Linked DNA regions of Homo sapiens. The protein of the gene in region 1 interacts with the protein of each later gene in a pairwise test. Each region holds a gene or a part of one and is shown on either strand. Other genes may lie near its edges.

The links. Proteins that work in one complex are often made in the same cells at the same time.
Region 2: the proteins of AQP7 (region 1) and MFSD6 interact in a two-hybrid assay, tested with the Homo sapiens proteins (one large-scale study listed by BioGRID).

Annotation. Positions count from the first base shown.
Region 1 is NC_000009.12:33,392,456-33,396,107, forward strand, and holds part of AQP7 (aquaporin-7), read right to left. Parts: intron 3,059-3,652; exon of another isoform or gene 2,764-3,058; coding exon of another isoform or gene 2,741-2,763; coding exon 2,623-2,740; intron 1,823-2,622; exon of another isoform or gene 1,672-1,822; intron 1-1,671. UniProt on the Homo sapiens protein: Aquaglyceroporins form homotetrameric transmembrane channels, with each monomer independently mediating glycerol and water transport across the plasma membrane along their osmotic gradient. Could also be permeable to urea.
Region 2 is NC_000002.12:190,414,768-190,418,419, reverse strand, and holds part of MFSD6 (major facilitator superfamily domain-containing protein 6), read right to left. Parts: intron 3,129-3,652; 5' UTR 3,007-3,128; intron 1-3,006.

The DNA.
Region 1 (3,652 bases):
GATTTGGGAAGATGCTGCACGTAAGGGGCTTAGCATCACAGAGCCCGGGATGCATTAGGTGCTCAATGAAAATCTCAACAAAAGGAAGAGGAACACAGATGTGGGCAGGTATCAAGCATGTGGGCGGTGCCTATTTCCCTAACAGCTCTCAGAGGACGCACCCTCCTGCCTCCGAGGTTCCAAGGGTTAACAGCCCTCATGGGGCTGGAATGTCTTGTGATAAGATCATTACTTTGCCCTGGATTAAGGAGGGACAGGATCCAACTGCTGTCCTCACAGCTCAGGAGCCAAAGCAGGTGGGGAGGTAGGAGAGGAGCAAAGGAGGGCTAGAGGCAGAGAGGAGAGAGCAGCTAGAGCACCCGTCCTAATAACAAGGGACCAATACATGGGTACCACAGGTGTACTGGGTGCTGAGACTTGGCCTTCTTCACACAAGTCCTCCAGTTTGATGTTAGTGCTCCTGTTAACCAATAAGGAAGCTACAGTTGTGGGCCGGGCGAGGTGACTCACGCCAGCAATCCCAGCACTTTGGGAGGCTGAGGCAGGCAGATCACCTGAATTCGGGAGTTCGAAACCAGCCTGGCCAACATGGTGAAACCCCATCTCTACTAAAAATAGAAAAATTAGCTGAGCACACTGGCACGCGCCTGTAGTCCCAGCTACTCAGGAGGCTGAGGCAAGAGAGTCACTTGAGTATGGGAGGTGGGGGCTGCAGTGAGCTGAGATCACACCACTGCACTCCATCCTAGGAGACAGAGTGAGACCCTGTCTCAAAAATAAGAAAGCTAAATTTGTGAACAGTTAAGATACTTGTGGATAGTCGCACAGCTAGAAGATAACAGAGCTAGGATTCAAACACAGCTCCAAAGCCCACGAAAGCCTAATTCTACATGATATAAGTGAGAAGTCAGGCTTTAAGCCATGCAGAGACATGCCCAAGGCCAACTGGTCACTCAGTGGCAGGGTCAGGCTAAGAACCCCGGTGTTCCGATTTCCTGTCTCCCTTGAGCTCCATGGGCCCCACCACACACACAAACAGCCTCTCTCACCCCACCTTCCTCTAGCATGCACCTGGCTGCCTTTGCCTCCCTTCCCAGAGGCTGCCCCTTCTTTCTCTAGACCCTGGACCCTGCATAAGATGCAATAAACATGGCTACAGTCACGTTAAGGGCAGAGGCTCGCTGGGGTAAGTGGCAGGGCTGAAGCAGGTGGAGAGGGAGCAACCTCACATCCCGCCTGCAGTCTGGATTCTGTCCCAATCACACACTAAAGAAGAGCCCTTGTCAAGGTTACCAGCAACCTCCACGTTGCCAAACCCAAAGGCCTCTTGCCAGTACTCACCTCGCGTGGCCCATCTGCCGCTGCCCACGCCGCTGACGGCTTCTTCCTGGTGGAACCACTGCCCCCCTCTGTCATGCAGTCTGCTCTGGTTCTCCTCCCACCTCTCTGACCGTTCCTTCTCAGGCTCCTTTGCATGCCCTTCTTCATTCCTCAGGGCTCTGTCCTCAACCCATCCTTTTCTCTTTCTGTACACTGTCTCTGGACAGTATTGACAACTACCACCTGTGTTGTGATGAACTTCAACTTTTTCCTTCCAGACCAAGCCTCTCCTGAGCTCCAGCCCCTTGCATGTGTTTAACTATCTCCTGGATTTCCCCACAGGCATCTCACCTCTCACCCTGTGCTGGGCCCCGTGCTCCAGAACAGCTCATCGGCGCTTTGCCCACATCTTCTGCTGGCAGAGTCTCCCTGATTCTGTCTTCCACAGCCCTCTCAAACATGTGCTTTCTTCTCCAACCCCAAACCAGTCATCACCTTCTCTCTGTCCCAGATCAAAAACAGCCTCTTAACTGGTTCCCTCTTGCCAGCCTTGCCTGTTCTGCTTATGCTCCACACTGCACCCAAAATTACCTTTAAAACCCAAATCTGATCATGTCACTCCCCTGCTTGCCAGCCTTCAACATCACCCACTGCCCTCTGGATTCATTATCAGAGCCCGATCATCAAGTTTCTCTTCAATCTCTCTCTCTCTTTTTTTTTTTTTTTCTTTTTTTTTTTTGAGACAGAGTTTCGCTCCTGTCACCCAGGCTGGAGTGCAATGGTGTGATCTCAGCTCACTGCAACCTCCGCCTCCTGGGCTCAAGTGATTCTCCTGCCTCAGCCTCCTGAATAACTGAGATTACAGGCGTCCGCCACCATGCCCAGCTAATTTTTGTATTTTTAGTAGAGACGGGGTTTCACCATGTTGGCCAGGCTGGTTTCGAACTCTTGACCTCAGGTGATCCACCTGCCTAAGCCTCCCAAAGTGCTGGAATTACAGGCATGAGCCACCGCACCTGGGCCTCTTCAATCTCTTTATCCTGGGTTTCCCTTCTCCCCATTTCCAGCCGTGCCCCGGATACCCCAGTGCATGGTTTCATTTGACCCCCACATATTATGAGCCCTTTCTGTCCAAAAAGGCTTGATGAGAAAGCCCCCCCTCCTTACTTTCCTCTGCTGCTTCCCCAGGCTCCCAGCTCAGAGGCAAGGAATGGACAATGTGACCCATGGGGTCAGCATGGGGAGGGGGTCATGGACGGCCCTGGCGGAGCCCCACCCACTTCGTGCTGCCCACCCACTCACCATCATGACATATGTGCTCATGAACTCGGCCAGGAACTCTCGCACCATCTTCCTCTGCAGTATTTCCTGGATCTTTGCTATCACGGACCAGGAGACCATTTTGGAGCCACGGGTGGACCTAAGACAGTGGCCCGAGCCCATGGACAGAAAGGAGACTCAAGTCTGCCTGCTGCCCATCGGCTCTTCAACTCCCAGCTGAGTTAATAGGTAACCCAGCAGCCTCGCCCACACACGCCTCCTCTTGCGCAGGGCAGCTGGGACAGCTGGAATTGGAGACACTTGAGAGCCACGGGGACATGGAGAGGAACTGGGGTAGATGGCCAGGCCATGCCCCTTCTAGTTGGGACTGGACCAGTAAAAATGGCACACCAATGAGGCCACTTTGCAGATGGGCGGGTGGGGAGCTGAAAGTGCAATCCACGGTGCCAACAAGCCTCTGGAAAAAAGCAGGGTGGGAGAGAGCAGGCTGGAAAGTGGAGCTCAGTTGTCTATGTCTGTCCGTCTGTCCGTCTGCCTATCTGCTAGAGCCAGAACTTTGGGGTCACAGGCCAGGGCCTGGCAACAGTGAGGCACTCTACAAACAGCATGAGGTGTGACAAAGTCTGCTGCCGAGCTCTATAAACAGCACTGAGCGCTGAAACAAGCGCCAGGTTCTGTCAAAAATGAAGGGGTCAGCAAAATGCACCAGGCTGTGCAACCAGGTCAGTGCAAACAGAGGTTTGTGAGAGAGTGAGTGAATGAATGAATGACCAAGAGAGAGGGAGGGAGAAAAGGAAGGACTGGATCTACTTCCTGGTGTATCTTCAGTGCCCAGCACCACGCCAGGCACATAGTAGATGTGCAATAAGTATTTGTTGAATGAGTGAAAACTGGGGAATCTGTCTTACTCCCAACTAGATCCTCAGAGCTTCCCAAAGGGCCTGGCACTTGATTTATATTGAGTTAAGTGCACGGTTAGATGGAAAGGTAGATGAAACAGGTGAGTAACAGGGCCCAAATCTGCATATAGAGAGAGGTATAGGACTGGAGT
Region 2 (3,652 bases), on another chromosome or scaffold:
GATCATAAGCAAGCTGATTCACAACCTTGGTTGCCCCATCTTGACAACATATTTGCACTTCAACAGGGAATCAGTGGATTATACTATCATATTATTACCAACTACAATACAATAACACTTAAGTAACACTTGCTATGAACCTAGCATGTATTAACTCATTTAATACTCACAACAGTTCTCTGGGGTGGAAATGATTCCTTTCCCAGTTTTACCAATGAGGAAACTGTGGCACAGAGAAGGCAAATAACCAGCCCAAAGTCACATAGGGAATGAGTAGCAGTGCTGCTCTTAGCAGGTACTGACTCTCAATGCACTGTGCAGCTATGAGACAGGGATCCCAAAAGTTAGGTCTTAGGCCTCAAAGACTTGCTTTATCATTGACAAGCAATGATAAACCACATCTCTCTCTCTCTCACATACACACACACACACACACACACACACACACACACACCACTAAAGGGTTAAATGAAAAGTCAGAATAATAATGGAAGAAAAGCCACATAGCCCTATATAATTTATTAACTAAAAGATATTAGGGACAATAGGCATGCTTCTGGAGTTCCAAGTAGGGTGTCCATACTTCAGACAGGGGTTGTCAAGAAAACGAGGGGCTTAAATTGAACTCTGAAAGATGGGCAGGATTCACAGGCAAAGATGAGTGGGAAAACTATTCCAGGGTAGAGGAAAGAAAAGGCAGCAGAGGATCCGTAAAAGATTTATCCCAAGACTAAAGGGCACATGAGGCCACCCAGACAGCAACAGATGGCACAGGGCCTTGAATACCAGGCTGAGGGACGACAGAACACAAAATACAATGGAATTATACTGAAAAAAAGACATTCATTTGAACAACCAAAAAAACCCTACAGCTATAGATCGAGCACCCACTAGTAGGTAGGACACATGCTGGAGGCCACACAGTCCCTGTCATGACACCCAGAGGCGAGAAGAAGACGGGGGCACACACAATCACAACACCTTATGCTAAATGTTCAAACAGGAGCAAGCACAGGTGATGTACACAGAGGGTCTGTGGTGTGGGGCCTCGAGCCAATCTTAAAGGATGAATAGATTGGCAGGGTTTTGCTACTGTGACCTTGCTAAGGATTTCCCAACATTTGAACTTTTATTTTGGTGTGCTGATCTTACCGCTAATGATCCAGTACTGAAGTCCTGTGATGGTATCATTTCAGAACAAACAGTACTTTATGAATTCACTATATCTAATGGGACCTTTCATAACATCTGGAAATAGAATACACTTGAAACATTTTCCTCACTCCTTCCTCTACTTCTAGAGATTGTTCTCACATCTACTGTAGGATTTATAGGTAATTTTATTGCTATCTTTTTACAGATATCTCGTTTGCCCAACAAGACTGTATACCCCTCGAGGGAGGAATCTAGAACATAACATATTGCCCTTTACCCCTGTAAGCTCTCAATACTGTTTATTTTGACAAGCACCTGATGACAATAAACATATAAATTTTTATTAAAGTTTAATGTGATCAAAAATTCATTTTAGGAAGTAGAGTCAAAAGAAGTCCCAGTTGCATCCCCCTGGCTTTGATAAATCAGTGCCTCTTTAAGCCTCCTTTTCCATACAAACTTAAGTCAATTAACTCCCAGAAGGATTCTAGAGCTTAAATGAAATAAAGTATGAGAAAGCATTCTGTTAATCTAAAAGCAACATATGAACATTTGGTGTTGCTGGTAGTTGTAGTTTTATTCCAGATATTTCATTAAAACTCTGGGTCTTATTTTGCAATTATGCCAAAAGCACTTTTCCCAGAATTATTTGGCACCACCCTTGAACTAGGCTAGTATTTCATCCATCTGTGCTCATGAATTTATGTTCATGTCTGTTTTCATGTCTACAGCCTGATGGGGGCCTGTGAGGCACTGGTTCACTGGAGAACACACTATTGTAATATGGACTGGAATGATAATTCATTATCTCCAGGAAAGAAATAACTATTCACTTAAAATAAAATATTCTGTAGAAACATTTTACTTATATTTGTAACATCATAAATCTGAAAGAAAGGACCTGAAATCCTCTCTAACATTTCCTTTCAACTTGCTAACAGGGTGAAAAAGGAACAAATTATTTTGATCTCTTAAGGGTTGGAGGAAATAGCTTATAACCATAAAGATGACTTTAGTAATAAAGACCAACTAGATTTTCACTTTCACTTTGTGGAAGAAAATAATCAAATGTCAATTAAAAATTTATAATTTAGGTTCCTCAGACCTTATCAGCCATCATGAAGCAGATTCCTACTTATTAGTTTTAGACTCCTGATTAAATATTGTGCCAATATAGCATAATTTATAATATAAATTTGAAGCAGGCCCCAGAACTTCATTTCCTTCTACCTTTCAAATAAGCTTCCTGTCTTAGAACAAGCCCAGCGGGAGGAAAAAGTAACAGTTCACATTACAGAGCTATTCTAACACTATTAGACACTGAGGAAGTTAAGAGGGTTAAATAAAGCACAATCTATACACGAGACAAGGCAGTTTAAACAGAAATGTATGGGTGCTTCTTTCTCAGACCTTTTATGAGTTTACAATTGAGACCAGAATATAGATCTCAAGGTTTATAATACATTTTCCTATAGCCCTGGACTATCATCAGTTATTTTTACTTACATCCCCTAAATGTGCTATAGTCTAAAAGAATAATTTATATCCTTAGTACCTTCCCATATATGTAATCTAAAATTGTTTTATTTTGCTGTTAGGGTTCTGATAACTTGAGAATTACCATAAGCTATCAATTCTAATGATATAATTAGTTTCAGAAAAAGGTTTATTACTTAGCCCATAAAATAAAAAAGTGGCTGAGCACAGTGGCTCACATCCGTAATCCCAGCACTTTGGGAGACAGAGGCGGGAGGATCACTTGAAGCCAGGAGTTTAAGACCAGCATGGGCAACAAAGCAAGATCCCATGTCTACAATTTTTTTTTAATGAGTCAGGCATGGTGGTTCATACCTGTAGTTCTAGCTATTCAGGAGGCCAAGGCAGGAGAATCACTTGAGCCCAGGGGTTCAAGGCTGCAGTGAGCTAGGATCACGCCACTGCACTCCGGCCTGGGTAACTGAGAGAGATCCTGTCTGTAAATAAATAAAAATAAAAAAGATAGATACTTTAACATACATACCATACCAATAATTTTTAAAATGGAAATATTCAATGCTGGTGAGTATGAGAATTGACAGGCATTGTCATTCACTGAGAGTAAAAACATAAACTTTCTGAAAAGCAAAGACTTAAATGTAAAGATTTTTATTGCAACACTTTTCACAACAATCACAACTGAAACAAAGTAAGTGATCAATAATAAGGACAGTTAAATAAGTTATGGTGAAAATAGGTAAATAAGCTATAGAGAAAAATAAAATCTTATATCCATATCATGGGAAAATAGAACTTAACTACATGGTAAAATGCATCATGTTAAATGAAAGAGCAGGACACAAACCTCTCGATATAGTACAGTTTATATTTGTAAATCTATGTAGCTCAAATAAAATGTATTTTAGAAAAAGACTCGATAAAAATGACACCAAAGTGTTATCAGGGATTATCTCTGAGTAGTAAAATTAGGACTTATTTAATTTTTTTCTTATACTTGGCT